Regions from separate parts of the Homo sapiens genome. Here regions 1 and 3 are each linked to region 2. Evidence: fine-mapped expression QTL. A gene starts in region 2. Each other region holds a variant in brackets. All regions are shown on one strand. Distances are from middle to middle. Region 1 overlaps SSU72 (SSU72 homolog, RNA polymerase II CTD phosphatase). Region 2 holds the start of TMEM240 (transmembrane protein 240). Region 3 overlaps ATAD3C (ATPase family AAA domain containing 3C).

Evidence for each region.
Region 1: its variant is fine-mapped to the expression of TMEM240 in whole blood (INTERVAL, PIP 0.98).
Region 3: its variant is fine-mapped to the expression of TMEM240 in cerebral cortex (GTEx, PIP above 0.99).

Annotation. Positions count from the first base shown.
Region 1 is chr1:1,560,685-1,571,088 of GRCh38, reverse strand. SSU72 (SSU72 homolog, RNA polymerase II CTD phosphatase) reads left to right here. Exons shown (of 5, transcript NM_014188.3): 2 at 6,173-6,316. Among named protein-coding and RNA genes, the nearest start is that of SSU72, 9.0 kb to the left of the region's middle. RefSeq lists an enhancer at 103-604. The variant T/C (reference allele first, on the strand shown) is at 5,528.
Region 2 is chr1:1,536,200-1,546,603 of GRCh38, reverse strand. TMEM240 (transmembrane protein 240) reads left to right here and starts at 5,980. Exons shown (of 4, transcript NM_001114748.2): 1 at 5,980-6,314; 2 at 6,814-6,920. The coding sequence starts at 6,258. SSU72 (SSU72 homolog, RNA polymerase II CTD phosphatase) reads left to right here. Exons shown (of 5, transcript NM_014188.3): 3 at 1,602-1,741; 4 at 2,617-2,735; 5 at 4,437-4,931. The coding sequence ends at 4,538. RefSeq lists a silencer at 7,101-7,395.
Region 3 is chr1:1,458,189-1,468,592 of GRCh38, reverse strand. It overlaps ATAD3C (ATPase family AAA domain containing 3C), which reads right to left. Exons shown (of 12, transcript NM_001039211.3): 9 at 9,362-9,432; 10 at 7,676-7,843; 11 at 5,885-5,993; 12 at 1-209. The coding sequence ends at 63. Among named protein-coding and RNA genes, the nearest start is that of ATAD3B, 8.4 kb to the left of the region's middle. RefSeq lists enhancers at 5,948-6,007, 6,028-6,107, 6,193-6,967. The variant G/A (reference allele first, on the strand shown) is at 5,196.

The DNA.
Region 1 (10,404 bases), 24 kb before region 2:
TGCTTTTAGTAGAGTCAGGGTTTCACCGTGTTGGCCAGATGGCCTCGATCTCCTGACCTCGTGATCCGCCCGCCTCGGCCTCCCAAAGTGCTGGGATTACAGGCGTGAGCCACCGCGCCCGGCCAAATTTTTTGTATTTTTAGTAGAGATGGGGTTTGACTGTGTTGGCCAGGGTGGTCTCGATCTCCTGACCTCGTGATCTGCCCGCCTTGGCCTCCCAAAGTGCTGGGATTACAGGCGTGAGCCACCACGCCCAGCCTGCTTGTTGCAGAAATTCTTACTGTAGAAAATGAAAGTGGTCTCTCAGAGGTACCATTTTGGTGTCCGTCTGTCTCCATGTGTTCACGCATGCATCGGGGATAAGCTCTTGTTCTGTTGTCTGCTCCATAGTTAGTATTCACATCATTAGTTTCCTTTTTTTGCCACGAGATGGCTTATTTTCATTATTCATACAAATAATTTTCTATAATACCCCAGTCAAACGGGAGAATTTGGCAGTCCGATTTTGGGGTGGGGGGGGTCCCTGCAGAGACTCACAGACTGGTGGCATTGGCGCTGAGTGCCCAGGTTCACAGCACAGCTTGTGGCTTGTGTCCATCTTGCATGTGGCTCTTCCTCCATGTCATGACTGGGGTCTCGGGGGTAACGGGCAGGAAATCCTTCAGACTCTTAGGAAATTTCACTCCACTTCTCCTGGCCTCTGGTCGGCAGGGTGTTCTTCCATGTCTCGGTTTTCTAGCTTGGCCTTATTGAAGTTGGAATTTATGTCTGTTGTCATTTTCCCTTTTTTTTTTGTTTTTTTTTTCAAGCCAGAGTAAGGCTGGAGTGCAGTGGCGTGATCATAGCTCACCACTTCACCCTTGAATATCTGGGCTAAAACGATCCTCCTGCCTCAGCGCCCCAAAGCATTTGGATTACAGGTGTGAGGCACCGCACCCAGAGCATTTTTGCTTTTGAAAATTACCTGTTTATGTCCTTTGTCTATTGATTTGGGTTTATTTAGAGAGTTTTAATACTCAGAAACTCTGTGTGATAGTGCTTTTCTGTTACACTGGGAAAGCTTGTGAAAGTCAGATTTAGAGAGTCTTTTAGGCGTTAAAAATGATGTGAAAAGCGTAGGAAATGCTTATGGTAAGTGAAAAAAGCAGGAAAATTGTATGCAGTTGGGTAGGGCTACATAAAACTGCACAGGAAAGCTGAAATAAAATTGTCAGAAGGAATTGTAGTTAACTGAGCAGGCACAGTAGCTAGCTGATCAGTGAACCTCGCCCCTTTTAAAAATTTTGGGCCTGGCAAGGTGGCTCTTCGGCCTATAGTCCAGCACTTTGGGAGGCTGAGGGAGGAGGATTGCTTGAGCCCAGGAGTTTGAGCCCTGGGCAACACAGTGAGACCCGCTATCATTACAAAACATTTTAAAACTTAGCCACATGTGGTTGCACATGCCTGTCATTCTGGCTGCTTGGGAGACGGGGCAGCAAGATCACTTGAGCCCAAGAGGTTGAGGCTGTGGTGAGCTATGACTGTGAGCTGTGACTGCGCCACTGAACTCCTGGCTGGACGACAAACCAAGTCTCTGTCTCTAAAAACAGACACAGTAACAATTTCACCCTATTGAAAATCAGCGTGGACTCTATTTTCCTGATAAATCCAAGTGATAGTAAGTGTCGACATGTTAGCGTTCTCTGGGGTGATCATCTTTGGTGTTAGAGACTAAATTGTTTCAAATACCAGAGTCCTGGGAGTCCTCATGTTTCAGGGCAGCGCCAGAAGACTCCGCCGTACGTTTCCACAGAGCCTCCTGCGCTTGGTGCTCCAAGGATTAAAGTGTCCCCTTGGAACCAGTTAGGTTTTTTGTTTGTTTGTTTTGTGGCTTTTTGTTTTTGTTTTTTTGTTTTTTTCTTTTATTTTATTTTTTGAGACGGAGTCTCATTCTGTCGCCCAGGCTGGAGTGCAGTGGCAAGATCTCGGCTCACTGCAGCCTCTGCCTCCCGAGTTCAAGCGATTCTCCTGCCTCAGCCTCCTGCGTAGCTGGGACTACAGACATGCACCACCATGTCCAGCTAATTTTTTTGTATTTTTAGTAGAGACGGGGTTTCACCATGTTGGCCAGGCTGGTCTCAACCTCCTGACCTCAGGTGATCTGCCTGCCTTGGCTTCCCAAAGTGCTGGGATTACAGGCGTGAGCCACCGTGCCTGGCCTTATTTATTTATTTATTTTTACAGACAGGGTCTTACTGTGTTGCCCAGGCTGGTATTGAACTCCTGGCCTCCCAAGTAGCTGGGATTACAGGCATGAGCCACCACGCCTGGCTAGTTTTGTATTTTTAGTAGAGACGGGGTTTCTCCATGTTGGTCAGGCTAGTCTCAAACTCCCGACCTCAAGTGATCCGTCCTCCTCCGCCTCCCAAAGTGTTGGGATTACAGGCGTGAGCCACCATGCCCCGCCTGATGGCTTCTTTATGATAGTTTTTTGGAGTTTTTTTGAGACAGAGTCTCACTTTGTCACCCAGGCGGGAGTGCAGTGGCACCATCACGGGGCCCACTGCGACCTCCACCTCCCGGGTTCAAGCGATTCTCCAGCCTCAGCCTCCGGAGTAACTGGGATTACAGGCGCGCACCACCACGCCTGGCTTTTTTTATTTTTTTATTTTTTTTTTAAAGTAGAGACGGGGTTTTGTCATGTTGGCCAGGCTGGTCTCAAACTCCTGAGCTGAAGTGATCCACCTGCTTGGTCTCCCAAAGTGCTGGGATTACAAGCCCTCTGATAGATTTTTGGTACTTGTAAAGACAGTTGTTTGGCATACCAGACAAATACTTGTCTGGAAGATTAGTTTACAAAGGCGTTGGCCCTTCAGGCGAAGCCTGTTGGTGTCAGGAGTGTTTTCCAAGCTGTCCTTGCTTTTATGTAAGAAACGCTGTTGAGTCGCAAGCTGGCTGCCCTGTCGGTTGCATCAGTTTGGGAGAAATACTGCTTCTGTTGCTAAATAGCCTTTTTGCCATTCGTGAACCTTTTGTTGGGGGAAAAACAAACTGCATTTTGTTTTTAAATAGGCTAACTTAAAGGAACGTCCAGCAGGTGGTGAGTTCTTGTTGGTGTTGGGAGGCAGGCTGTCTCCTTTGGCTGCTGTGATCACGCTGATCCTGGGCTTCTTTGTGCGATTTTTTTTTTTTTTTTTGAAACAGAGTATCGCTCTGTTTCCCAGGCTGGAGTGCAATGGCGCGATCTCGGCTCACTGCAACCTCCGCTTCCGGGGTTCACGCAATTCTCCTGCCTCAGCCTCCCGAATAGCTGGGATTACAGGCGTGTGCCACCATGACTAATTTTTGTATTTTTAGTAGAGATAGGGTTTCACCATGTTGGCCAGGCTGTTGTCGAACTCCTGACCTCAAGTGAGCCACCGCGTCCGGCCCTTGTTTGTGCTTTGACGGAACATATTTTATTGTATGTTGTCTGAATTGGTAAGGAAGTCATTTTAGGCTTGTTGTTTCTCACGTGTGCTCCCTGTGGTATGCCTTGTGTCTGGGCCTCCGTCACCCTCTCAGTCACAACCAACAGTTGACTTTATTGCTTTAACCTCATGTTTCCGTCAGGATCTGTGGTTATGACTGAATGTCAGGAATTTTAATTTTAGCATTTTCACGTTTATTTCACAGTCCGGGTGCCGTGAACACGGGTTTGTAGTCATGAATCGCTGCTATTGTGCCACATTTCTGGCCGTGTGTGGTAGATGTTTGGAGAGCCGGGTTGTGTAGCTCGGAATATCTAGGGATGTAAGGACTGACGCAGCTGTCATCAGCCTCAGGGGACTCAGGTGTTTCACGTACACTAGATGAGCACATCTTCTCTGTGTGTGTGGGTGACGTGTGTGGTGGCGCAGCAGGGTGCCCTTGGGCTCTTTTGCTTCCTCTACTCATCTTCGGAGGTGCGCGTGGAGCCGCATGGCCTGTCCTGCCCCATGGATGGATTATTCTACTTGTCTGTTCTTTTGTGGCTGTGGAAGGCCGGCAGTGGGCATCCTGCAGGCAGCCATGTTGCAGAGGCACGTGTATGTCCGTAGGGCGGGTTTCTAGAAGCCAGTGTCTGTGAGAAAGGCACAGGTAGTTTTCACTTGCTGGGTGTTGCCCCATTATCCGCATAGAGACTGGTTACACTCCAGCAGCCCCCTCTGCCTGAGTTTTTCCTCTCTTGTGACACTGTTACTCATTCAACATTCAGTAATTTTTTTTTTTTTTTGAGACAGGGTCTCGCTCTTGTCGCCCAGGCTGGAGTGCAGTGGCGCGATCTCAGCTCACTGCAACCTCTGCCTCCCGGATTCAAGTCATTCTCCTGCCTCAGCCTCCCGAGTAGCTGGGACTATAAAAGCGCCCGCCGCCTCGCCCGCCTAATTTTTTGTATTTTTAGTAGAGATGGGGTTTCACCATGTTAGCCAGGCTGGTCTTGATCTCCTGACCTCATGATCTGCCCACCTCGGCCTCCCAAATTGCTGGAACTACAGGCGTGAGCCACCGCACCCGGCCTTACTTTTCTTTTTTTAAAATAATATGGAACTCCTCACGTGTCTGTGTGTCATTCTTGCTCAAGAGCGAAGCAGCAGCACTTTTCTGAACAAGAATGACAGGCCTGTAAGAGGAGTTTAGTGTTAATGGAAGTGTATGTGCGCCCTGCGCCCTGAGCCAGGCAGATTCCTTCAGATGCAAACCTTTTGTGATTTATAAATAAAGCTAGGTTGAGAAGTCTATATTTTTTAGGTAATTATAAGTATCAGTTGTGACTTTACAAGAACACATGTTCTATACCAAAGTAACTTTTTTTGTTGTTTTTTTGGGACAGAGTCTCGCTCTTTTGCCCAGGCTGGAGTGCAGTGGTGAGATCTCCAATGTCTGCAACTTGTGCCTGCTGGGTTCAAGCGATTCTCATGCTTCAGCCTCCCAAGTAGCTGGGATTACAGGCACGCACCACCATGCCCAGCTAATTTTTTTTTTTTTTTTAGTAGAAACGGAGCTGGGGTTTCGCCTCCTGGCCAGGCTAGTCTGAAACTCCCAGCCTCAGGTGATCCATTTGTCTCGGCCTCCCAAAGTGCCTGGATTGAAGGTGTGAGCCACCGCACTCGGTGCCAAAGTAACTTTTTTACATGTAACTTGTTGTGACAAACTTAAGTGTGCTTGTCAGCGATGACAGAAGAATTTTCTGGTCTTACCACACTCCATCAGTGTTTGGAGACGACCTCTCTTTCTCCTTGCGTGAACTAGAGCTCATTGGTGGCACATGACACACGTTTCCTGTTCAGCTCTTTTCTCCAGTTGATTAGGAAAAGTATTTGGTCAGTTTCCTCACCTGTGACTAGGAAGTCCAAGGAACAAGCACCGTCGGACCCATCGCGGCATCTGTTCTCTGCCTGCAGCAACCCTGAGCCTGTGGGACTCCTTTGGGTGTTGGGTCTCGGTTCCCATGGAGCCACATCGTGGGGGTGTTGGGAAACTGGGGGAGACAGAGTTTCCTGTGGTGGAGCGGGCAGTTGGACCTTTG[T/C]GAGTCCCTTAGGAATCCTGTGAACTTGGATCCTCCAAAGCCAGGACGTTGGTCGATGGCCAAAATGTTCTGATGAAATCTTCCCCAAGTCCACATCAGTCAGTCCTTTCAGTTTAAAGTAAAGCCTTAAACAAGCTATGATGTTCAGATGTGGCTTTGTGATGGTCAGTTCTGGTTTGATTGCTTTTGTGTAACTTGCTACAGCCTGTCGCCCAGGCTGGAGTGCAGTGGTGCTATCTCTGCTCACTGCAAGCTCCGCCTCCCGGGTTCACGCCATTCTCCTGCCTCAGCCTCCCGAGTAGCTGGGACTACAGGTGCCCGCCACCGCGCCCGGCTAATTTTTTGTATTTTTAGTAGAGACGGGTTTTCACCGTGTTAGCCAGGATGGTCTTGATCTCCTGCCTTCATGATCCGCCTGCCTTCATGATCCGCCTGCCTTCATGATCCGCCTGCCTTGGCCTCCCAAAGTGCTGGGATTACAGGCGCGAGCCACCATGCCCGGCCTAGATTAAAAATTTGAAGACATATTCTCTACTATGAGCCAATGAAATTACTCATTTTGTTTCTATCCCATTTGCTGTCCCTTGCTTTTGGAATTTTGTGTCTTAGTGTGACTGTGATTCTTTCTCTCCTTTTGTCTTTCAGCAAACGGGGATTCAGCGTCCGATCCTTTGGAACAGGGACTCACGTGAAGCTTCCAGGACCAGCTCCCGACAAGCCCAATGTTTATGATTTCAAAACCACATATGACCAGATGTACAATGATCTTCTTAGGAAAGACAAAGAACTGTATCCCAGCGGGTTGCCCTTTAAAAACCCCCCGTGTGGTCCTCCCTGGAAGGTGTTACGTGTGGCTCGGGCACAGGAGGCGTGTCACCCTGTGCAGTGCACACACTGGCTCCTCTGTCTTTGCGAGAGCTTGGTTTCTATTCCTGGTGCACGTCGGATCGTCCACGGGTTAGTTCCAGTGCCACCCATGGCAGTAGGCGTGGTGAGGCGCACAGACACGGTGTGGGGTTCACCCTGACGTGGTTCAGCAGAGGGTCGTGACATAGCGTAGACCAGGGATGCTTAGGTGAGGAGGTGGAACCCACAAAATCCCATTGCTTTTCACACTGCAGGGCTGCCCCGTTATTTCCTTTGCAGGTTGGTGTGCGTGCGTGTGTGCGTGCGTGCCTGATACACATGGAGCCGGGCTGCTTCACACATCTGGTGAGGTCGTTAGAAGGTCAGATAAAGAAGAGGGCGGAGCTTGCTAACCAAGCTGTTAGAAGAAATAATGGGAGAGAACATTCCTTCATTTCAGGAGGACACAGAGCAGGCTAGGTCTGCCGCGAAGACTCCTATAGAGAGAAGAGTATTCTTAAACTAGATTCTGATGGACGCAACACCAGTTGCATAATGGTTATGACAATCAGTGCCCGGGTTTTTGACCAGGCATTTCATGGTCACCCCCACGCTAATGGAAAGTTTCTGGATCTTATTTTGTTATAGTGAGTGATTTGTAGTTTTCAGAACGGAGGCCAGGCCAAACGTATTCCAAATGAAAAGAGAATAGGTGTCAAATGCTAAACCTTTTATCTTCGTGTTGGCACTGTTGCCATCCCCGCCCTCTCCCGACATCCCCGCCCTTGACCAGCATCTCTGGCCTTGCCCAGCATTGTCTATGTATTGGCACTCTTGCCATCCCCGCCCTTTCCCAGCAGAGTCTCACTGTGTCACCCCGGCTGGAGTGCAGTGGCGAGATCTTGGCTCACTGCAGACTCACTGCAACATCCACCTCCCGGGTTCCAGTGATTCTCCTGCTTCAGCCTCCTGGGTAGCTGGGATTACAGGCACGCGCCACCACACCTGGCTAATTTTTGTATTTTTAGTAGTCACAGGGTTTCACCATGTTGGCCAGGCTGGTCTTAAACTCCTGACTTCAGGTGATCCACCCTCCTCGTCCTCCCAAAGTGCTGGGATTACAGGCGTGAGCCACCATGCTCAGCCCTACTCTTGTATTTTTTTTTTTTTTTTTTTTTGAGATGGAGTCAGAGTCTCACCCTGTTGCCCAAGGTGGAGTGTAGCGGCTTGATCTCAGCTCACTGCAACCTCCCCCTCCCAAGTTCAAGCGATTCTCTGCCTCAGCCTCCCGAATAGCTGGGATTACAGGCATCCGCTGTCATGCCTGGCTAATTTTTGTATTTTTAGTAGAGACGGGGGTTTCACCATCTTGACCAAACTGGTCTTGAACTCTTGACCTCGTGATCCAGCTGCCTCGGCCTCTCAGAGTGTTGGGATTACAGGCGTGAGCCACCATGCCTGGCCTCTTGGAATATTTAATAAGCTAAAAAATTCTTATACACAGGTAGATTAATTAGGTAGCCAGGAGTGGCCCCTGAAAGTATGTCTGGCAAAACCTAGAACTGCATCCTAGCCATCACTGTACCTTCTGCCCTCCCTGCTGTCTCCTCTGCCAGTTACAGTTAAAAGGTTGTGGGTGAGGACGCTGGGCAGAGTCCCAGGCGTCTGCTGTCAGCTCCCCAGCCCGGCCTGCCTGCCGAGCCATCTGGGCGTCCCACGGTGGAGAGTGTGGTGCTTGTGACGCGGTGGTGCTGGGAGCCATCCTGGTGGCAGATGTGGGCTCTCACTGCAAGTCAGTGTAAGTCCCCAGGGACTGTCAGCAGCACGTCCTGCTGCCCCTCTCTCTGCAGAAGCCCTGGTAACCTGCGTTTGGAAAAATCTCTAAGGATTTCTGAGGAGCTGTCAGGCCATGTCCTTGTCCACCCTGTGTGGGGCACGGCTTCGACATGGCTCTGCTCCCGTCGTGGGCTGAGAAGGAGCAGGTGGGGCTGTGCCTTGGAAAGGAGGCCCTCCCGACATGCCTTTGTGCGAGGTCCCTGTCCATGCTGTCTCCATCCCGGAGCCTTACGGCGATGGGTGGCCACAGAGCCTATTCCAAGAGTCTGGTTTAGGGCTGGGTCTTCCCATCTTCACCTCTGAGTCTTAGGCGATGCGTGACCACGCAGCCCCTTCCAGGAGTCTGGTTTAGGGCTGGGTCTTCCCATCTTCACCTCTGAGTCTTAGGCGGTGCATGACCACGCAGCCCCTTCCCGGAGTCTGGTTTAGGGCTGCGTGCTCAAGAGTCTGGTTTGGGGCTGGGTCTTCCCATCGCCCTGGAGGAGGCTTTTGTCTCATCTCATGATTCACATTAAACTCTGTGCCATGAAGCTTAGCCTGACATCCTGTTTTTGACAATTACTCTTCAGTTAGCACTGTTTATTTTTAAGTTCTTGTATATTCAGTAAGAGAAAGAAAAGCAGAGAGTGACGCACATCCTCACACTCCCTTGATTGGTGTAAGCTCAGCCCCTTCATGTCAGCCCACTGTGACCTCCTGGGTTCCAGACCTGGGAAGTACTTGCCACGTTCTGCAAGGACTGAGTCCAGCTTCAGCAGTCTCATCCGGAAGGACTTGGTATAGGCAGAGGATGAGCCTGTCTCTGGTCATTCTAAAAGAAGGAGCTGAGCCCAGTGTCCCAGAATTCGGAAGCTCCTCCTTTACAGAGGGACTGTAGGGGTTGGTGATCTCCCAGGAAGCATCGGCCCAGAAGAACCCCGCGTGCGTGTGTGTGCTCTTGGTGTGTGGTGGGGGGAAGGAGTGGCAGCAGGGGTGGCGCTGGGACACTGTCAGCCACGGGCTCTGCTTTGGGGACCTCGTGTGGGAAAGGCATTGCCTGTGGTGGCCCCTCAGGAGGCTCTAGGAGGAGCGTGCCTTCATTACCTTATTTCACTCGGGGGGCGTCTTTGCCCCCTAGGTGGGGGCAGAAGGTGCAGAATGGGAAGCCTGCCACTTAGCTAAAGCTCTTGCACATGATGCCCTTGGCCTGGAGAGGAGTGAAGTCCCCAGGCAGTTCCCTGTGGACACTGGCACGATGCCGGGTGGGGCCTCAGGGGTGTTGAGATGTGCAGGTCGGGAGGACCCCGATAACGTTTCCTGGTTAGTGATGGGTGCAGGGGGGCCGCGGGAAGTGACTGTTACAAGTGAGAGCCCGAAAGCAAATCTGCCCCACAGCAGCCGGTGCGTTGGCAGAAGTCATCGCCGTAAACTGCAGTGGAAGCAAGACGGGGTTCAAGATGCGGCCCAAAGATAAGACGCAGCACTTGGTCGAGTGTTCACAGCGTCAAGACAAAGGACGGGCCGGCGCGGTGACTCAGGCCTGTAATCCCAGCACTTTGGGAGGCCGAGGTGGGTGGATCATGAGGTCAGAAGTTAGAGACCAGCCTGGCCAACATAGTGAAACCCCATTTCTACTAAAAATACAAAAATTAGCCGGGCATGGTGGTGCACGCCTGTAGTCCCAGCTACTTGGGAGGCTGAGGCAGGAGAGTTGCTTGAACCTGGGAGGCAGAGCCTGCAGTGAGCCGAGATCGCGCTACGGCACTCCAGCCTGGGTGACAGAGTGAGACTCTGTCTCAAAAAAATAAAAAAGGAAGGACAGTGTGACTTGGGAGGAAAATGCTGCTTGTTCAGAGGCAGGGCCGGGGTCGAGGGGGACCCCACCACTGCCATCTGCCTACTTGCCATGTGGCCAGGGCTTAGGTTTCTCTGTGCATGCCCACCTCGCAGAATTTCTGATAATTAAATAAATTAGGACATGCACACACTGAGCCCGAGACAGTGTTTTAAAGCCTTCAATAAATTTTGGCCAGTTGTCCTATTAGTATTGAAATACTTAATTTATTATTATTATTTTTTTAGATATGGGTCTTGCTGTGTTATCCAGGTTTGTCTCGAACTCCTGGCCTCAAGTGATCCTCACATGTTGGCCTTCCAGAGTACTTGGATTAGAGGCGTGAGCCACTATTCTCAGCTTTCATTTCTTAAATACAAAA
Region 2 (10,404 bases):
CGGCCTCTCGATGTGCTGGGATGACAGGTGTGAGTCGCCACGCCCGGCCTCCTAGAATGCTGGGATGACAGGCGTGAGCCGCCGCACCCGGCCTCGAGCTCTTCTTTCCGCAGACTTTGATTCTCAGCGGCTGAAGGACTAAGTTCCCCAGAGATGGACCCGGGTGTCATAGCTGCTTCCAGGGGCCTCGGGGACACAGGCGGGACTCCAATGTGCAGGAGGAGACACACGTCAGGGGTGGGTGTGTGACTTCCACGCTGCTGACAGTGACCCAAGGATGCAGCTCAGGGTCAGATGCCGTTAGATCAACCACTTCAATGTATTATAAAACTATTATAAAAACTATTTTTGCTACCCAGGAAGGTAGCTGAGTTCACTTAGAATTCCTGTCAGCTAGGCTGTTTATCTGAAAGTGGTTACTTGTCCCTGACCATCTGGAATGGCTCAAATGAGCTCCTGCAGACCACAGAGCTCATCTTTGGGAACCCAGTCTCTCTTTTTGGGGAAGTGAGCCCCTTCCTTGGGAACCCCTGAGGCCAGGCATGGCCACTGTGGATGGTGGGAGGATGCCCCACCCTGAGGACCCCAGAGGCTCCTGTGGCCCCTTCCTGGGACTGCTGGGGCCGGTGTGTGTCAGCGTTCACCCCAAGGCCCCCTTTCAGCTGGGCTGGACGCCAAGTGCCTTCAGGCCTCATCCTGCCCTCCACCATCCCATAGTCAGTGAGGCTGTGGCATCTCCCTCCTCGACTGTCTTGCCCTCTTGGTTTTTGTATCAGCGTTTTCCAGGCTGATTGCTGCTGAACCTTCTGTTTTTTTTTCTTTTTCTTTTTGAGACAGTCTTGCTCTGTTGACCAGGCTGGAGTGCAGTGGCATGATCTTGGCTCACTGCAACCTCAGCCTCCCGATTAGCTGGGATTGCAGGCATGTGCCACTATGTCCGTCTAATTTTTGTATTTTTAGTAGAGACGGGGTTTTACCGTGTTAGCCAGGATGGTCTCGGTCTCCTGACCTCGTGATCCGCCCACCTCGGCCTCCGAAAGTGCTGGGATTACAGGCATAAGCCACTGCGCCCGGCCTGGAGCTTCCTTTCTTTGGGTTTTCCGATGTTCTTGACTCTGTTGTAGCTGAGCTAGACTGGGGACTGGGTTTCCGGGTTTGCTTTGTCTCTGCTGAAGGGCTGAGGTTTCAGAGCCAGCATGCACTGCACAGGGAGCAGAGGGAGGAAGAAGGATCCGACTGCGGAGACACAGTGACTGAGGCCAAGGGCAGCTTGGGCCGGGCCAGCAGTGAGGGGAGAGGTCTGGGTAGAAGGTGTCATGCTGGGCGGGGGCGGGGGGTGTCCTGCGGGCCTTGGGTCTTTTTGCCGAGTTGGGGGACAGCGAGGAGCAAGCACCTGCCATCGCCCACTTTGTTTTCTGTGGGACCTCCTAGGACAGTGAGGCCCCTGCCTCACCAGGGCATGGCCCACTCCGCTGTCCAGGCCTTCGTCCCGGCTGCCTCTGCTGTGGGGCAGGGAAGGGGCTGGGTGTCCAGGACACAGGCGCTTCCAGGCTTCATACACAGATGCCTTTTCTCTGACGTTCCTTAACTCCCATGTGTAGCTATACACAGAATGGGATTTTACATATGCTGGACAGAAATAAGAGAATCAAGCCCCGGCCAGAAAGATTCCAGAACTGCAAAGACCTGTTTGATCTGATCCTCACTTGCGAAGAGAGAGTGTATGACCAGGTGGTGGAAGGTGAGGAGGCGGCTGCGTGCTGGGCTGGGCTCCAGCAGCTCTCACAGGGTCTGGGGATGCCTGCAGGGCCCCACCATGACCAGTACAGCCCGTCTAGAGTGGCGGGGGCCGGGGAGCAGACCTGAGTGTGAAGCACCCTGGAAGGCAGGCAGGGCCGCTGGTCGCTGAACCACCCATGTGCTGGCTGCAGCCTCATGGGCTTCAAGGGGCCTCTTTTCTCCTTGGTGTTTTTTTGTTTTGTTTTTTGAGACAGAGTCGTGCTCTGTCGCCAGGCTGGAGTGCAGTGGTACAATCTAGGCTCACTGCAACCTCTGCCTCCCGGGTTCAAGTGATTCTCCTGCCTCAGCCTCCCGAGTAGCTGGGACTACAGGCGTGTGCCACCACACCCAGCTGATTTTTGTATTTTTAGTAGAGACGGGGTTTCACCATGTTGGCCAGGCTGGTCTTGAACTCCTGTCCTCAAGTGATCCGCCCGCCTCAGCCTCCCAAAGTGCTGGGATCACAGGCGAGAGCCACCGCGCCAGGCCCATTTTTCAAGCGGATGGACCCTGTGTGGAGCTGGCGGTGGAGCAGGGAGGGCTGGTCTTTAGTGACGGGGAAGGGTCGCAATGCCAGTCACGGTTCACCCCAGGACTGGCTGGTGGGTGGGGAGTCCCAGACCAGCTTGTGCTGAGTTGGAGATTTGCTCAGGTTTCCTCGAACCATCAGCCGCCTTCGGTTTGAGGCTCATTCATTGTGCTCCCCAAACTGCAGAGTCCAGAAACCACTGGGGCTGGGCTGGGCCTGCAGCCGGCAGAGCTGGGGACTCAGCCACATTGACTGCCTGTTCCCTGGTTTTGGAGCCTCTGACGTCTGTGTCACCTTGTCCCAATCAGATCTGAATTCCAGAGAACAGGAGACCTGCCAGCCTGTGCACGTGGTCAATGTGGACATCCAGGACAACCACGAGGAGGCCACCCTGGGGGCGTTTCTCATCTGTGAGCTCTGCCAGTGTGTAAGTACCCGGCTGGGCGCCGCGCTGGGCAGAGGTTGTGACAGAGGGGAGTGACCGAGGCCGTGACAGAGGGGAGTGGCCGAGGCCGTGACAGAGGGGGTGGCCGAGGCCGTGACAGAGGGGAGTGGCCGAGGCCGTGACAGGGGAGTGGCCGAGGCCGTGACAGTGGGGAGTGGCCGAGGCCGTGACAGTGGGGAGTGGCCGAGGCCGTGACAGAGGGGAGTGGCCGAGGCCGTGACAGTGGGGAGTGGCCGAGGCCGTGACAGAGGGGAGTGGCCGAGACCTGAGGCCGGCCCTGCTGCTTGGGGCAAGGTCTGCTCAGCTCGCCTGTGTCGGGGGCGCCTGCTGGTAGTTCAGTGAGTCACTCCACAGCTTTGGCACAGGAGGCCCCCCTGCAATGCCCTTTGCTCAGCTGAGAGACGCTGCACAGGGACCTCCCCAACACAGGCTTAGTCCCTCTCCCAGGACACGGCTCCAGGGAACGCCTGGTACCTTGTCTCTTCCCCGTGGCGGACACAGCCCCACCTCAGTGAGCAGAGCATGCAGCTCTCCGGGATGCGGTGCAGTCGGAGGTGTGCCCCACGTGAGCCTGGAGGCTGCCAAGGGCTCTGTGTCCGCCGTCCACCCCTGGACTTGGCCTTCTGCACACCTGCCTTCCCCAGTGGGCCCTGCATGTCTCCCTTGCACAGAGGGGCCGGGGCACCCCAAGGCTTCTGTAGCCACCCTGCTGCGGCGTGGAGGTGCTGGGCTGTGACGAAAGGACCTGCCTGAGGAGAGCCCCACGCACCGTCCCGCCTCTGCCTCTGCCTCTGCCTCTGTGATTTGATGAATGTCTGTGAAAGACAGAAAAACAGAACAGCTTCACCAAGAAAGAAGATGGTGTGTTTGGAAAGCCCGGGAGCCAGGCGGGCGGGCGCTGGGAGAAGCTGCTGTGTGGCCGCAGAGGCTCCTGCGCTCCGCCTGGCCCACCCAGCATGGCTTCTGGTCCCCACGTGCCTCACGGTCCAGTGTGGCTGCTGAAGCGCCAGGGACGGTCTTCATGATCGCCTGGCAGGAGAAAAGGTCATAAGAAAATGTCGTCCCAGAAGTTATTGCACGATTTCTGCTTGGGTCACGTTGGCCAGAGCTGAGTCACAGACAGGCCGCTCCTTGCTTAGAGGCACTGGGTGCTGGCCAAGGCTGGGGACCAGGGGACAGTGGAGATGGCGAGTAACGAGCTGCCGGTGCCAGGGCAGGTGTGCCTAGGAGCCGGGCCTGCTCACTCTGGGGCAGCGGCCCTCTGCCAGGGGCTCTGGTGGATGGAGGCCAGGATGCTCCGATGACCAGGCTGCCCCCGCTCGCTTGTTGGTGGTGTGGAAGCGCTGGCGGTGAGGGTTGGTCGGCCCCGCTGTGCATGTGTGGGTCTGAGCCCTGGCCGCCAGGTCTCCGTGCTGGGCCCCTCTCAGAATCCAGCTCCAGGCTCCTCCCAGCTCCTCCCAGCTTCAGGTCCTGTGAGGGTCGGTGGGGAGGTGGGGGCTGCCCGGGACGCTCTCCCCCTGCAGCCTCCGGCCGTCCTTGTGAGGCAGCAGCGGTGGGGTGAGGGCCTGCCTGCTGCGCTGGTTTCTGCTGGCTCAGGCCTGGCGTTTCCCTGGCGATCCAGGTGTTAGGGGGAGCAGACAGGCAGGAGTGGGCAAGGCCCTCACCACGGTCCTGTCCTTGCAGATCCAGCACACGGAAGACATGGAGAACGAGATCGACGAGCTGCTGCAGGAGTTCGAGGAGAAGAGTGGCCGCACCTTTCTGCACACCGTCTGCTTCTACTGAGCCCAGCGCCCGCATGGAGCCGCCTCTGGAGCTTCCTGTTGTTCATACTTTTTCCTTCCTGACATTTGTTTTTACTTACAGGTGTTCTGCTGGTGACGGTAGCATTACCCAAATAAACTGTGCATATGAAATGGGAGAGGAGATGCCAAAACGCCAGATGAAAGCAATCAAGTTTCTTCTTTTCCACTTTTACTTATGAGCAGGATATTGATTACAAAGTTTTTCTTCTTTAACCAAAAAGGAAAGACAACGGTTTGTGTGCACTTCCCGACATACCTGTGTCTTCGTGTGCCTGCCTTCCCTCCCTCCTCCCCACCGGGCCGGACTGTACAGAGCCCTGCTGCGGCGTGTTAGGAATGACCTGGAATTGTCAATAAACAGATGCTGCTGTCATTGTGCCTGGTCCTGAATTCCTGGCCCGACCCTCGCCCCTGAGGAGGTGGCAGAGGCCTAGCCCTGCCGCCCTCAGTGACCTCCGACCACTGCTTGGGAGGAGTAGCTCAGACCTGGTGGTGCTGACAGGGTCTGGGCCTACCCGTGCCTGTGCTGCCTGAAGCGGAAGCCGCCTGCTCCTGCCACAACTGCTGCCTGTGGTGGAGCGGCGTCCCCTCTCCATGTGGAACCCCCCCGGGCGGGGATCCCCCAAGGCCAGCTACGGGGGAGGCTGAGCCGGGAGGATCGCCTGAGCCCAGGAGTGGAGGCTGCAGTGAGCCTGGATGGCGCCACGACCCAGGCTGGGTCCCAGGCATAGCTTCCCGCTGACTTCCTGCTGAGGCCGGGGGTCGGCTCCCGGGCCTGAGACATGGTCACCGGTCGTGGATGAGAGTTTGGCCTCAGGACCCCGAGCCAGGGACAGCCACAGCGGAGTGGTGGCCACTGGGCCTCTGAATGGCCGGCGTCCCGACCCATGGGCCTGGGCTGACCCCCTCGTCCCCGCCCTAAGGGAAGCCTGTGCGGGGCGGCCCTGCCCTCGGCTCCTGTGCCACATCCCTCCGTTGAGGATTCCAGGGGTCATCCCGTCCCTGACCTGTGGCCCCCACGGCCGTGGGGCTGTCGCGACCTTGCGGACCCCACCCTGGAGGCACGTGCGTGCCGAGCGGACTGGGGCAGTCCCGCACCCGGCGACCTGGGAGTCCAGGACGTAGGGCGGAGCAGTGGGGCGGGAAGGGCCTCGGCGCCCCTCCAGGACCGGAGGACTGGCGTCCAGGGTCACCGGACAGGCCACCGGGGCTGGGTCTGACCAGACTGGGGCGGGACGCGAAGCCGAGGCTCCCGGGGAGGGGTCCCGGCCGGCGTCCGGGGGATGGCGGTCTCCTCCCGGCGCTGGCACGGGGCGGCCTGCGGTCTGCGCGGTCCCTCCCGAGAGGCGGAGGAAGGCGGCGGGGAGGGAGGGGGGAGGAGGGAGGAGGAGGCAGGGAGGGGGCCGGAGCCGAGCGGAGCCGAGTCGAGCCGAGCCGAGCGCATCGCAGGGAGGACCCGAGGGCGGAGCGGAGCGCGGCGGGCCGGGCCGAGAGACCCCAGAAAGGCCCCGCGTCCCTCCCCGGCGCCCCCCCCCCCGCGCCTCCTCCCCCCGGCCGGTGCCGGGGTTGCAGCGAGCGGCGGCGGACGATCCAGGGAAGCGCTGACCTCTGCGGAGGCGGCGGGGGCTCAGCATCGGGCCGGGGCCGGGGGGGCGCCGGGGCCGGGGGGCGGCGCTCCGGCCCGGCCCGGCCCCGCCCGATGTCCATGAGCGCGAACACCATGATCTTCATGATTCTGGGGGCGTCGGTCGTGATGGTGAGCGGAGGGGCTTCCCGCGCGCGCCCCCTGCTCCCCGCCCGCGCGCGCCGCCTGGCCCACCTCCCGCGCCTTGTTTACCGCCCGTGCGGCCTGCGCTCCCCTCCCCGGCCTGCGCTCCCCTCCCCGGCCTGCGCTCCCCTCCCCGGCCTGCGCTCCCCCACCCCGGCCTCCGCTCCCCTCCCCAACCTGCGATCCCCACACTCCCTACGCTCCTCTCTCCGGCCTACGCTCCCCCCACCCCGGCCTGCGCTTCCCCCTCCCCGGCCCGCGGTCCCCTCCCGGGCCTGCGCTCCCCCCACCCCGGCCTGCGCTCCCCTCCCCAGCCTGCGATCCCCATACCCGCTGCGCTCCCCCTACCAAGGCCTACGCTCCCCTCACCCCGGCCTGCGCTCTCGCTCCCCGCTTGCGCTGCCCCGACCCCGGCCTGCGCTCCCCACCCCCAGCCCCGCTTCGTCCCGCCCGCTCCTTGGCGCTGACCGGTCATGAGCTCTTCCAGGCCATCGCGTGCTTGATGGACATGAACGCGCTGCTGGACCGATTCCACAACTACATCCTCCCGCACCTGCGGGGCGAGGACCGCGTCTGCCACTGCAACTGTGGCCGGTGAGTCCACAACCGGCGCCGGCTCGACACGCGTGAGCGCACATGTGTGGCGGGGCCCACTCGGGGCGCGGGGGAACCAGCCCCACGCAGGCCGCGAGCCGCCTTCCACCCTTGAGGGCTGCCAGGTGCGCAGGGGGAGGAGCTGTCTCAAGGTGGGCGGGGGTCTCCTGGGGGCGCATGGCTTTAGGACGCCGTTCCTAGAGGCCTCCAGGGTGATGGCGGAATGGGTCACGGGGCCTCCTGGTCCAGCCTGGAGGCCGGAAAGCCGCAGCCCAGTGTGATGTCCACAGTGGAGACCCAAGCCAGCCTCATCAGGGCTGGGGCAGGAAGCGCCTGCTGGCACAGGGCTGGGCCCTGCACTGAGTCCCTGGGCAGGGGAATGCAGGTCAAGGCGGGAAGGGCCTGCCTTGAGGGGCACTGGGCACCACCCCCGGGCTGGAGAGGAGCTGAGGGATGGGCTGGGGGGGCAGCGGGGAGGTGGAGCTTCCTCAAGGTCATTCAGATTGAGGGGAGCGCCCAGACCCCCCGCACCCACCGTGTGACCCCCTCTGTGCACGTGTAGCGATGGGATCCTCTTGGCCATGCATGTTTGTACGTCCATGTACGAAATAAACATCTTCTCATGAGACGCGCATGTGTGTGGCGTCTGTGCATATACATGTGCGTACACACAGCCCCCGCGCACGCACGCATGCACTTCCACCCCTCAGGACACCCTCACGCAGTGGCCGCTGTTAACCCTGCTGAACAGATGAGGAAGTGGACGGAGGATTTAGAGGACAGGCTTTTCCAAGGTCACACAGCTAGTGAAGGACAAAGGGGGCACCAGCCCAGAACCCGTGTTCGTCATCTCTGCTGCCTCCTGCTCCGGGGGTCTCTGTGCATACGTGTGGGTGTGGGGCATGTGTGTTCAGGACAGCTGCATGTGTTGCTAAGCGTGTGACATGCCTATGGGTGCAGCAGGCGTGTCGATGAAGAACACGGGTGTTAGAGAAGGCAGAGATCGGGGTGTCTGTGACCCTCACGTGTGCTGGGCACAGGGTAGGGGGTAAGAGCTTGTGGGGTGGCCACATGCTACCAGAGAGCCCCGTGTCCCTGGCTGGCAGGTCCGACTGCTGAGCAAAGGCCTGAGGTCGGCTCCACTGCCTCCCGGAGGCTGGGCCCAGACCCGAGCTCCAGAGCATCAGAAAGGTGCGGCCTCCACGCACGTGGGCTGGGGCCGTGTGCATCCGCCTGTGGCAGCACACTGAGGGCTCCGCGGGGCAGGCAGAGGCGCCTTAGAGTATTTGCACAGGGCATGTAGGGCGGCTCATGCCGTGTCCAGAGCACGCGTGGACTCGGGTGGGTGCACGCTGAAGGCAGCCGTGTGTGGGAAGCAGAGCCACAGCCTGCTGTAGACGGTATTGCTGCGTGTGTGTCCATGTATCTATGCTCTGTTCACATCTCTACATACAGGATATGTACGTTCAGCGTACAGAGTGCCCTTGTATATTGACAACATATATGTGTATGCAAAGTACATGTATGTCACAATATACAGTGCCGTGTGCTCAGGGACATGTCAAGATGTCTCCGTGTAGCTGCAGCCAGTGTGTGTGCAGACAGCAGTCTTGCACATGCGGTATCTGCGTATCCACCATGCCCGTGCACTGCCATGAGAGGCTCCCTGTGTGTACACGCTGGTGTTCAGAACGAGTGTGTGTACATGTGTAGGCCTCATACGTGCCTATACGTAGACGTTGACGTGGAGAACGTGTATGGAAATCAATGCTCCAAAGTCTGTTGGCAGGCAGCGTCCAAACTAGACATCCGTCCATGCACGTGACGTGGCGCCCCGTGGAGAGGGTGGCTGCGTTTTGCAAAGCCAAGCGAACATGCACTCGCGTGACACACCGTGCACAGGGCGGGGGTGTGGCGCTCCCGGGGCCCATGTCCACAGTATCACGCCATGTCCCGTGCATGTGGCTGGTGTGTATACGTGATGTACACTGGGCCTCAGGTGGACACACCTGGTGTGTGTGGTGCAGGCAGGACACACGTATGTACATGTCACAGACATACGTGTGCAGATAGCATATCTCTGCCCAGGCCTATCTCCTGCTTTCACTTGGGAGACCTGAGCCCTCCAGGAAGGAGGGCCAGGTGCAGGGAGAGGAGCTACAGGTACCCAGGCCAGCCATGGTGGGGGACACAGGCTGTGACCTCTGACCCCCAAAGTTACTGAGCCCCTGGGGTGGGTGAGGACTCTCTAAGGGGTCAGGAACAGCTTCCTCCCCTGAGGGCCTCTGGCAGCTGCACATTCTGGGCAGTGGTCAGCAGCTGCCCATTGGTGACGATGGACGATGGCTGTGGACAGGCTCGTCACCAGGTGATCGGTGGCCACCAGGAATCAGCCACGGTCATGGTCACTCCTCACCGAGAGCCCTGCCACTGAAAGCGGCCACTTTCCGGATATGCTGAGGGGACTGACCTCCGGGAACCCCAGAAGAGCAGGAGGGCTTCAAGGGGAGCGTGGGGCAGGGGACACCTCCTCCCTGTTCCTGGGCTCGGGCCCCAGGACCCCCCAGATCTCACTGAGGGAAGGCACCTGTGTGGTCCCCGCTGGGCACAGGGATGGCCTGGAGAGGGCTGCAAGACCCTGGGTTGGACGGACAGGCTGGGCTTTCAGTGTGGGAAGTACTTCTGGTTGGGGTGTGGAGGGTGGGGTGGTCTCTGGGTCTCGGCTGAAAACCAGGCTGAGGCGCTGCTACGTCACCGAGGGGAAGGTGGGGGAGAAGCAGGTCTGGGGAGAGAGGAGCTATTTTTAGGCACAAGTTTAAGGTGTCTGCGGATCCCACGTGGAGACACAGGCAGCTGGAGCTCGGCGGAGATGTGGGAGGCAGCCAGGAGTGTGGACCGCAAGGCGCGTGGGGCCCGCGGGCTCCACTCCCAGGCCCTCCTGTTGGACTAGGGATCCCAGAGTTGACTGTCTGGGATGCCAGTCCGATCGGCAGAGTCAAGGCCCGGAGACCTTCCTGGGACAGGGTGAGCTGCTGGGGCGAGCTCCTTGGGGAGCTTGTGTTGCCCCAGCAGCAAGAGGCCAGAGGCTGTTGTGGCCTGAGCCTGGGCAGTTCCCCCAAGAGCCCGGGGAGGGGAGGCCGAGGGACATGGAGGCGCGCAGGCACTGAGGACGAAAGGGCCCTGGAGCCTGGACGCCGTCCATCCTGAGAGGAGCGGGGCGGGTCTGTGCCAGGCAAGGGCAAGGGGGCGTCCCCCAGGAAGGGGAGAGGATGGGGTGCTGGGTAGAGCCCCCGTGGCCTCCGACAGCACCTCCCAGGGATAGAGGAGCAGAAGAAACACCAGGGGCAGTGGGCCTGGCAGGCGCGGTGGCAGCCGTGGAGGAAAGGGCACAGCAGCGGGGGGAAGGGTGCATGGGAGTGGCTGGTCTGGGGCCAGCAGGGCTCCCTGTGTCCAGCTCTGCTCCAAGTGGCCTCCGCGGCCCCGG
Region 3 (10,404 bases), 78 kb after region 2:
GCAAAGGCAGGGGTGGGAGGGGTCCGCGGCCAGGCTCCGTGAGGTGTGGTCTCCCCATGGACTCAGGATGAGGGTTGCTCGTCCTCGGGCCCAGGCCTCTCCCCCTTCAGCCAGCGCATCATCTGCTGGTGCTGCTGGACAAAGTCTTGCACGCAGGCGTCCATCATGGCCTCGGTCAGGACCCCGTCCTTGGAGGCATACGCCGTGGCCTAGTGGGGAGAGAGGGAGCTGAGGGAGGCCGCCATGGGAACCCCCCACCCCAAATGCACGCCAGGGCCCTGAGGTGGGGAGGGACCAAACCAGGGGCTCCAGGATGGCCTGAGCGTGAAACACAGGCTACCCGCACCTCGGCAGAGCCCAGCACGTGTGTGGACACCGGGGGCAGCCCCTGCAGTGCCCACAGCCCTGCCTGCGTCCTCAGCACCAATGTTGCTCAATGACTTTCTAATAGAAAGCCCAAGGCGGAGCCTCACTGACGGCCGACCCAGGGCAGCTTCCCAGAGGCAGGTGGGAACTGCAGACCCTCTGCGTGTCTCAGCCGTGGTCAGGCAGTGCCCCCGGGTCATAGTGCACCTCAGACCCTCAGACCCTGACCCTCACAGGCCTCCAGGGCAGAGGCAGCCACTGCCCACCTTGAGGCACGTGGCTGGTGGCACCAAGGCCACCTCTGCCCCCACCTCCCTGTCCTCCTGGGCACAGGGCTTGGCATCTAGCATGTGAAGGCTGGAGCTGCTGGGGCTGTGGCCCTTGGTGTGGCTTCAGGCAGCCTCAGGTCCAGCCCTTCTGCCATGGACAGGTCACTCTCCATCCCAATGCCAGCAAAGGGCATGGAGTCCCCAAGGGGAGGCACCCATGGGTCAGGGTGAGGGTGTGGGGACCCCCACTGGGCGCCATGCTCAAGAGCGCACCAGGACGCCTGGAGGAAGCACAGGGCAGGGGACCCTTCCCGGACAGCTGAGCGGGTCCCTAGCCCCATCCCAGCTATGCCTCCCAGAGGCAGGATTCATCTCACGGGGTGCAGGGGCAGCAGCACACCATCCTCCCACAACACCGTCACCACGATAGAACCTGCCATGGGGATGACCACGTGGTGCCCGTCCCCTCTGCCAGCGCCCATCCCTCACCAAGAGCCACTGTGTGGGGAGACACTGACCGGAGCCGGACCACCACTGTGGGTCGGGGGCCCGGGAGCGCAGGAGACACTGACCGGAGCCGGACCGCCACTGTGGCTCAGGGGCCCAGGACTGCTCAACATCATTTTTGGTCTTGAGCCCACCCAAGAGAGGGCAAACAGGTGCAGGGACCCTCAGGGTCCACCCGAGTGGCTGCACCTCACCCAGGGCCCAGCAGAGGAAAGGGGGTGAGCAGATGCTCACGGAGCCACCCCTCCAGGAAGCACGGGACCTGGCAGGAGCCCACCAGAAGTGACAGCTAAATGTCACGTGGCCTCCTGGGTGGGATTCTGGGGCAAAACCTGGTCGCGGGTGGGTCCAACAGTGACACATGATGTTCACCACGTGGCAAGGTCCCAGGCCCAGGAAGTCTCTGTGCTACTCTTGCAACTTTTCTGGGAACCTAAAATCTTCAAACTATAAAAGTTGAAAGACAAGACCTGGACCTGATGTCTTCACATGTGAATTCACAAAACATTAAGAAGAATCAGTACCACTCCTCAAACTCTTGGACAAATTGAAGAACATTTCCTCACTCATCCTAAGAGGCCAGCATTACCCTCATATCAAAGCCAAAGACACCACAAGAAAAATGACATGCCAATATCCCTGATGAGCATCGTTGGAAAAGTCGTCAAGAAAATGCCAGCAAAACGAATTCAGGAGTATAATAAAAGGATTCCACACCCTGACCAAGCAGGATTTATTCCTGGAATGCAAGGACAGTTCAACATATGAAAATCAATCAATGTTCCACATACAAAATGTTCAACATACAAAAATCAGTCAATATTAGCAGAGTGGAGGAAGGAAACCACATGACCCTCTCAACTGTTGCAGGAAAAACATTTGGCCAAATACAATTTTTTTTTTTTTTTTTTTTTTGAGATGACATCTCCTTCTGTCACCCAGGCATCTCGGCTCACTGCAACCTCCACCTCCCGGGTTCACGCCATTCTCTTGCCTCAGCCACCTGAGTAGCTGGGACTACAGGCACCCGCCACCACACCCAGCTAATTTTTTATATTTTTTAGTAGAGACAGGGTTTCACCATGTTAGCCAGGCCAGGATGGTCTCAGTCTCCTGACCTCATGACCCACCCGCCTCAGCCTCCCAATATGCTGGGATTACAGGCGTGAGCCACCGCGCCCAGCCATTTTTTTTTTTTTTTTTTTTTTGAGACAGAAGTTTGCTCTTCTTGCCCAGGCTGGGGTGCAATGGCAGGATCTCGGCTCACCGCAACCTCTGCTTGCCGCATTCATGCGATTCTCCTGCCTCAGCTTCCCAAGTAGCTGGGATTATGGGTATGCACCACCACGCCCAACTAATTTTGTATTTTTAGTAGAGTCGGGGTTTCTCCATGTTGGTCAGGCTGGCCTCGAACTGCCGACCTCAGGTGATCCACCCACCTCACACTTTTATGATAAAAACACTCACCAAACCAAGAATTGAAGGACACGCCCTAAACACAATGAAGACCATATATCACAAGCCCACAGGTGACATACTCAGTGGTGAAAAACTGGCAGCTTTTCCTCTGAGTAAGGAACCAGGCAAGAATGCTTTACTGCTTCTATTCCACATACCACTGGAAGTTGTGGCCAGGGCCATTAGACAAGAAAAAGAAAAGTCATCCAAACTGAAAAGGGAGAGGTAAAATCACCTGTTCTCAGATGATATAATCTTATATGTAGAAAATCCTAGAATCCATATTGGAAAAAACAACCCTGTGACATCAGCAAAGTTACAGGATACAAAATCAACAGCAAAAACAGCTGCAATTCTACATACTAACAATGAATAATCTTTTTTTTTTTTTTTTTTTTTTTTTAAAGACAGTCTTGCTCTGTCGCCCAGGCTGGAGTGCAGTGGCACGATCTCGGCTCACTGCAAGCTCCGCCTCCAGGATTCACCCCATTCTCCTGCCTCAGCCTCCCGAGTAGCTGGGACTACAGGCACCTGCCGCCACGCCCGGCTAATTTTTTGTATTTTTAGCAGAGATGGGGTTTCACCATGTTAGCCAGGATGGTCTCAATCTCCTGACCTTGTGATCCACCCACCTCAGCCTCCCAAAGTGCTGGGATTAAAGGCATGAGCCACCGCGCCTGGCCCACAATGAATAATCTGAAAGGGAAATTATGAAACCATTTCCATTTACAATAGCATCCGAAAGAATAAAATACTTTGAAATTCACTTGACCGAGAAGGTGAAAGACTTGCACAGTGAAAACTGACCGGGCTCCGTGGCCCACACCTGAATGAATCCCAGCACTTTGGGAGGCTGAGGCGGGCAGATCACCTCATGTCAGGAGACCGAGACCAGCCTGGCCAACATGGTGAAACCCCGTCTCTACTAAAAATACAAAAATTAGCCGGGCATGTTGGCGCGTGCCTGTAATCCCAGCTACTCAGGAGGCTGAGTCAGGAGAATCACTTTAACCCGGGAGGCGGAGGTTGCAGTGAGTTAAGATCGCAACACTGCACTCCAGCCTGGGCGACAGAGCGAGACTCAGTCTCAAAAAGACAAAAAGAGAAAACCACACAATATTGCTGAGAGACATCAAAGCAACATAGAGACTAAATGCAATCCCTGTGAAAACCTCAATTATGTTTTACAAAAATAGGAAAACCATTCCTAAAATTCATATGGAATCTCAAGGGATCCTGAATAGCCCAGACTGGAGTTCAATGGCACCATCTCAGCTCACTGGAACCTCCGCCTCCAGGGTTCAAGTGATTCTCATGCCTCAGCCTCCTGAGTAGCTGGGATTACAGTCACACACCACCACGCCCAGCTAAGTTTCGTATTTTTAGTAGAGACGGGGTTTCACCATGTTGGCCAGGCTGGTCTTGAACTCCTGACCTCAGGCAATCCACCCACCTCAGCTTCCCAAAGTGCTGGGATTACAGGCGTGAGCCACCGTGCCCGGCACAAAAAGAAAAAAACTCTTGAAGGACAAAGTTGGTGCTGGGCGTGTTGGCTCACCACCACCGCTGTGAGCAGTGCAGGATGAGTGTCCTTATAAGGGACACCAGAGAGAGCTGAGTTGCTCTCTCTGCCACATGAGGACCCAGCAAAGAACACTCCACAGGGAGGGACCGAGCTGGCACCCTGACCTTGGGCCTGTAGCCTTCAGAGCTGTGGGCACACACGCCCCAGTGGTTATGGCAGGCCCAGCAGTCGACCACACTCCTGTTCTTTTTTTTTTTTTTTTTGAGACAGTCTCACTCTGTTGCTCAGGCTGAAGTACAGTGGCACGATCTCGGCTCACCACAACCTCCACCTCCTGGGTTCAAGCGATTCTCCTGCCTCAGCCTCCCGAGTAGCTGAGAATACAGGCATGCACCACCACCATGCCCGACCAATTTTTGTATTTTTAGTAGAGGTGGAGTTCGACATGTTGGCCAGGCTGGTCTCGAACTCCTGGCCTCAAGTGATTCTCTCTCCTTGGCCTCCCAGCATGCTGGGATTACAGGCATAAGCCATGACCAAATTATTCTTATTTTTTAAGACAGGGTCTCACTCTGTAACCCAGGCTGGAGTGCAGTGGCACAATCACAGCTCACTGCAGCCTCCGCCTCCTGGACTCAAGTGATCCTCCCACCTCAGCCTCCCAAGCAGCTGGCATCACAGGTATGCACCACTAGGTCTAGCTAATTTTTTTTATTTTTTGTAGAGATGGGTTCTTGACTTGCTTTCCAGGCTGGTCCTGAACTCCTGGTTTCAAATAATCTGGCTGACTTGACCTCCCCAAATGCTGGGAATACAAGCATCAGCCACCACCATGCCCGGCCTCTGCTTTCTTAGTTGTGGAAACAGACCTGGTCCCAAGTGGGGATGGCCTGGAACAGAGACCTCAGCTGACCCAGAAGGACGGGGTTTGAGATCTGGGGTTCTTTGTCACAGCGGCATAACCCAGCCTGTACTGACTAATACAGCTCCCTACATACCCCGGCTCCTACGTTCAAATCAAGGTAGTTGGCTACTTCATTAAGCTGTCACACATAATGTGCTGCTAGATC[G/A]AGTGACCAGATTGTCACACAGACTCTGTGGACCCCAGAGGCAGCGATGCCTGTGCATGGCCAGGGTGCCTTCTGCCCCACAGACCTGGTTTTGCTTTTCCAGCAACCCCCAAAGACCAAAGCTTTCTGGATGGCCGTGCCCACACTCCTGTGAGTCCCAGCTCCTTGGCCCTGGGGCAGCCATGGAGCTGCAGGAGGGGTGCCCCTGAGAAACAACTGGCTGTGGGACAATCAGAGGCCACAACTCCCACCCATGTGTCTGGGCCCGTCAAGCAGGACCAAGCCAATGGACTTGGTCCAAGAAACACAACGTCCCTCCACCCCCACCACCAAACTCACAAGGGGCCTGTCCTGATGACCATTCACACTGGGGGGTGCCTGTCTGCCAAGGTGAGCATCAGAAGCCTCCCGCCCCACCTGGCAGAGCCCGGGCTACTAGGAGGCCGCACTGGCTTCCTGACCTGTGACCGTCAGCCACTGACATGGCCCCACCCTTCTTGCTGGAGCAGGTGCACGCTGCTGCGTGGAGTGGCCCAACTGGGGCAGGGGCCCCGTGTCACATCTGTGCACTGAAAACCCCTCAACAGAAGCTCCCACGTGACACCGGTGCTGGGACAGGCCTGGCGCAACCAAGCATCTGCACAGCAGCTGGGCTTCCATCTGGGTGGGTGCACCCGAGCCTGACTCACCTGCCAGGACACGGCCAGCTGTGCGATCTTCCGGCATGACATGCCCTCTGTCAGCCGAGCGATCTCTAAGCACTTCCTCCCGTAGTCAAACTGGGCCAGCTTCAGACGCCTGGGGAAGGAGTTCCCAAGTGGGCCGGCCAAGGCAGCAGCTCCCACACCACGAGGTGGAGGCCGGAAGACAGGCAGCCAGGCGGACACCCATGCCAGATGCCCCCTTGAGAGGGACTCTCTACCTGTGACAGCCAAGTTCCGCCCCCTTCCTGACGCAAGCCAGGCCTGGGCTGAGCAGGAAGGGGGCGGCTGTGGGGCCTGGAGATGGCCGCACCCCTTCCTAACACCAGCCCTGTCCACTCAGCACCCACAGGGCGCATGGCCGTTAAACTGGCAGTGGCAGAGCCCTGAGTTCTAGCAAAAAAGCTTCTGCCTGGAGGCCACAGAAGCCAGGTCATGGTGCCAGAGCTACGAGCAGCCATGGGTGTCGGGGAGCCCAGGGAAGGGGAGGGCATAGGGAAACTGAGACCCGGAAAGCTGGTCTAGCATGGAGCAGGCGGCAGTGGAGGGGTCGGCAGGGGAGAACCAGGCTCTCTTTGGAACAGAGCAGCTTTTGTCGTCACTGGCGACAGCAGGGATTTGGGTCAGGTGCACAGAAGGACTCAGAAACCGGGGCCCTGGGGACGCCAAGAAGTAGAGCAGCCTCTGCTCATCTGGAGTGTTCCCGAGGCAGCCAGTGTGAGGCGCCAGGGCCCCTCATCACCTGGAGGGCTCTGCCCACCGTGCCTGCTGCACCCACCGCCAGCAACAGGGAGCCTGACAGCCTCAAGGCACATGTGCAGCAGGAAGCAAGAGCCGCGCCCCACACCACGAGGCTCCAGGGCCGGGTGTGGCAGCTGCAGGGAGGCCAGGCCAGAAGCCAGCAGTGGACCATGAGGAGCCTCTCCCTCTAGTCCCGACATGGGGGTCTCATGAGGAGCCTCTCCCTCCAATCCCTACATGGGGGTCTCATGAGGAGCCTCTCCCTCCAGTCCCTACATGGGGGTCTCATGAGGAGCCTCTCCCTCCAGTCCCTACATGGGGGTCTCATGAGGAGACTCTCCTTCGAATTCCGACATGGGGGTCTCAGAGCAACACTCCACGTCACCTCCCCTCACTGCCAGGGTCTGGGGGTGGCCAGGTACAGGATTTCCTCACAGCTCTCCGCGTAGTGAAGAGGAACGTAAAAGAGGCCGGGCACAGTGGCTCACATCTGTAATCCCTGCACTTTGGGAGGCTGAAGCGGGCGGATCACCTGAGGTCAGGGGTTCAAGACCAGCCTGGCCAACATGGTGAAACCGCATCTCCACAAAAAATACGAAAAGTAGCCAGACGTGGTCGTGGGCACCTATAATGCCAGCTACTCAGGAGGCTGATGCAGGAGAATCGCGTGAATCCAGGAGGCAGGGGTTGCAGTCAGCTGAGATCGTGCCACTGCACTCCAGCCTGGGGGACAAGAGCGAGACTTCGCCTCAAAAAAAAAAATGTTAAAGGTTTGTAAGTGATAGTGGACTGTGCCTCCAAACCAGAAGACACGCCACCAGGCTGTTCTCAGGTGGGGATGAGGAAAGGGTGGCAGGACCTCCCTGGATGCGGCCTCTGGGACCCTTGGGGCCCACAGGGCTCCTGCACGAAACCGCAGGGCAGGGAGGTGGTGCCCATCCTGGAGACAGGGCCTGCTGGGTGTGTCCGGAGAACAGGAGCAGGGGTGGACCCTGAGCGAGGGCCCCTGGACGGGGGCTGGTGGGGCGGGACACTTACCGCTTTCCTTCTGTGGCCGGCTTAAGAACATACTCGTTAAGATACATTCTCACCAGGCGCGCCCGCTCCTCCTGCCCTGGCAGGTCGAAGTGGACCATCACGTCGATGCAGGCATTGATGGCCCAGTCGAACTGCTCGGGGTGGCAGCTGGCCAGGATCAGCATGAATCTGCGGGGCGGGGATGGGGAAGGAAACGCTGGGGCTGCCGGCCGAGCTGTCCCCAGGGGAACAGGTGCTCCTCAGCCCCCTCAGGAAGACTTTCTGGGAGAATCTAAAGTGGCAGCTTGTGAGCACAGGAAACATGGGGAGAACGCAGCCACAGCCATGGTCACCCGCCTGCCTGCCCCACCACGCCCAGCTGTCCCCCTGCCCGGCTTCCTGGGCCTCTGTTCTTGCCCCGTGTGGTACTTCCCCGCTGACCGTCGCCCAGCCTGATAGGCAGTGCCGGGAACACCACTCCCTCCTGCTACCTGAGCCCCGCTGTGCTGGGAGCAGGGATGCGGGACCCAGAGTCCATGTCAAGATTGTGGCCACGCTGGCCAGACGCAGTGGCTCACGCCTATAATCCCAGCACTTTGGGAGGCCGAGGCGGGTGGGTCACCTGAGGTCTGGAGTTCAACACCAGCTGACTAACATGGTGAAACCCCATCTCTACTAAAAAAGAAAAAATACAAAAAATCAGCCGGGTGTGGTGGCGCACGCCTGTCATCCCAGCCACTTGGGAGGCTGAGGTAGGAGAATCGCTTGAACCCAGGAGGTGGAGGTTGCAGTGAGCCAAGATCACGCCATTGCACCTCAGCCTGGGCAGAAAAAGCAAAAACTCCATCTCAAAAAAAAAAAAAAAAAAATACTGCCACGCGAGCCAGGAGCAGGACCTCGGGGGCCCGGGTTCACTGGAGGCTCAGCAGGGCCCCAGCCTTGCCTCTCTGGGAAGGACCCGAGTCAGGGCTCCAGGGAGCGTCTACCGGCAGCAGCTGACCCAGGAGCCCAACGTGCCTGAGGAGTCAGCCACGGCCGACCAGCAGGACTTGATCCTCCATGTGACACGTGACTGGGGCTGGAGGGACCCAGGAGACCAAGAAAACTCAAAATTAGGGGACTTGGGAGGGACTAGGGAGACTGGCCATGGGGCGGTCACCCTATGGGGGACATCTGGGCGGCAGCCCACAGAGGCCACACAAAGTCGGGTGGGCCCCAAGCCTGGAGGGTGCACCCTTGGCCAGCATCCGGGCGGGGGACCAAGGTCCCAGGTTCCGCCCCGACACACAGGACCTGCTGGTGTCCAACTTCCCGTGGGAGCAAACTTGTCTCCATCTCCCACCCCAGGGCACACACACCCTCCAAGGGAGACCCAGCAGAGCCTCACACGATGAGACCACCTCCCTTGCAGGCACAGGACCGCAGAAACCTAGGGGCAGAGGGACCTGCAAGCTGGGGCGGCGGTGCACAGGGCCGTGAGGACAGGACTGACCCCAGCTCTGCCCGGGAGGCCCCCGCATGTTCCTCAGTGACACCCCGTGCTGTCCTGAGCTGGGCCGTTCCCAGGGGACATCCAAGGTGGGCACGTTGAGGCCACGGCAGCTGCCCAGCACTGTGAGCCAGGGCCCCTCAGGTCCCTCGGTGGGAACCAAGGGTGACGGCTGCACAGCCCTGCCCGGGGGCCCAGGACCCGAGGGGCTCCCTCACTTGTTGCTGTGCTGGCCCGTGCGGTACAGGAAGGCGTTCAGTGTGGCCCTGAGGTCCTCGCTTATCTTCTCCTGCAGAGAGAAGGTTCCAGCCTTAGGCACCAGGAGCAAAGCCTTGTAAACAGCCACAGCAGAAAGTCCCACAGGCCTCCCTCCTGCAGGGAGCAGGGACATGGCGACACTTTCACGGATCTAGACTCAAAAGCCTGACCAGGGCCAGGGGCGGTGACTCACGAATGTAACCTGGATTTTGGGAGGCTGAGGCAGGCAGATCACACGAGGTTGGGAGTTTGAGACCATCCTGGCCAACATGGTGAGACCCCGTCTCTACTAAAAATACAAAAATTAGCCAGGCGTGGTGGCACACCTGTGGTCCCAGCTACGTGGGAGGCTGAGGCACGAGAATCACTTAAACCTGGGAGGCAGAGGTTGCAGCGAGCTGAAATGGCACCGCTGCACTCCAGCATGGGCGACAGAGTGAGACTGTCTCAAAAAAAAAAAACAAACCCTGACTGGGCGTGGGGGCTCATGACTGTAATCCCAGAACTTCAGAAGGTCAAGGCAAGAGCATCTCTTTAGCTCAGAAGTTCGAGCCCAGCCTGGGCAACAAGGGGAAACTCCATCTCTACTAACATTACAAAAAAGTTAGCTGGGGCCTGGCGCGGTGGCTCACGCCTGTAATCCTAGCACTTTGGGAGGCCGAGGTAGGCAGATCACCTGAGGTCGGGAGTTCGGGACTAGCCTGACCGGCATGGAGAAACCCAGTCTCTAGTAAAAAAAAAAAGACAAAATGAGCTGGGTGTGGTGGTACATGACTGTAATCCCAGCTACTTGGGAGGCCGAGGCAGGGGAACTGCTTGAACCCAGGGGGCGGAGGTTGCGGTGAGCCAAGATCGCGCCATTGCACTCCAGCCTGGGCGACAGAGACCCTGTCTTAAAATAATAACTGTATGGCTGGGGGTGGTGGATCACGCATGTAATCCCAGCATTTTGGGAGGCAGCAGCGGGCAGATTATTTGAGGTCAGGAGTTCTCAACCAGCCTG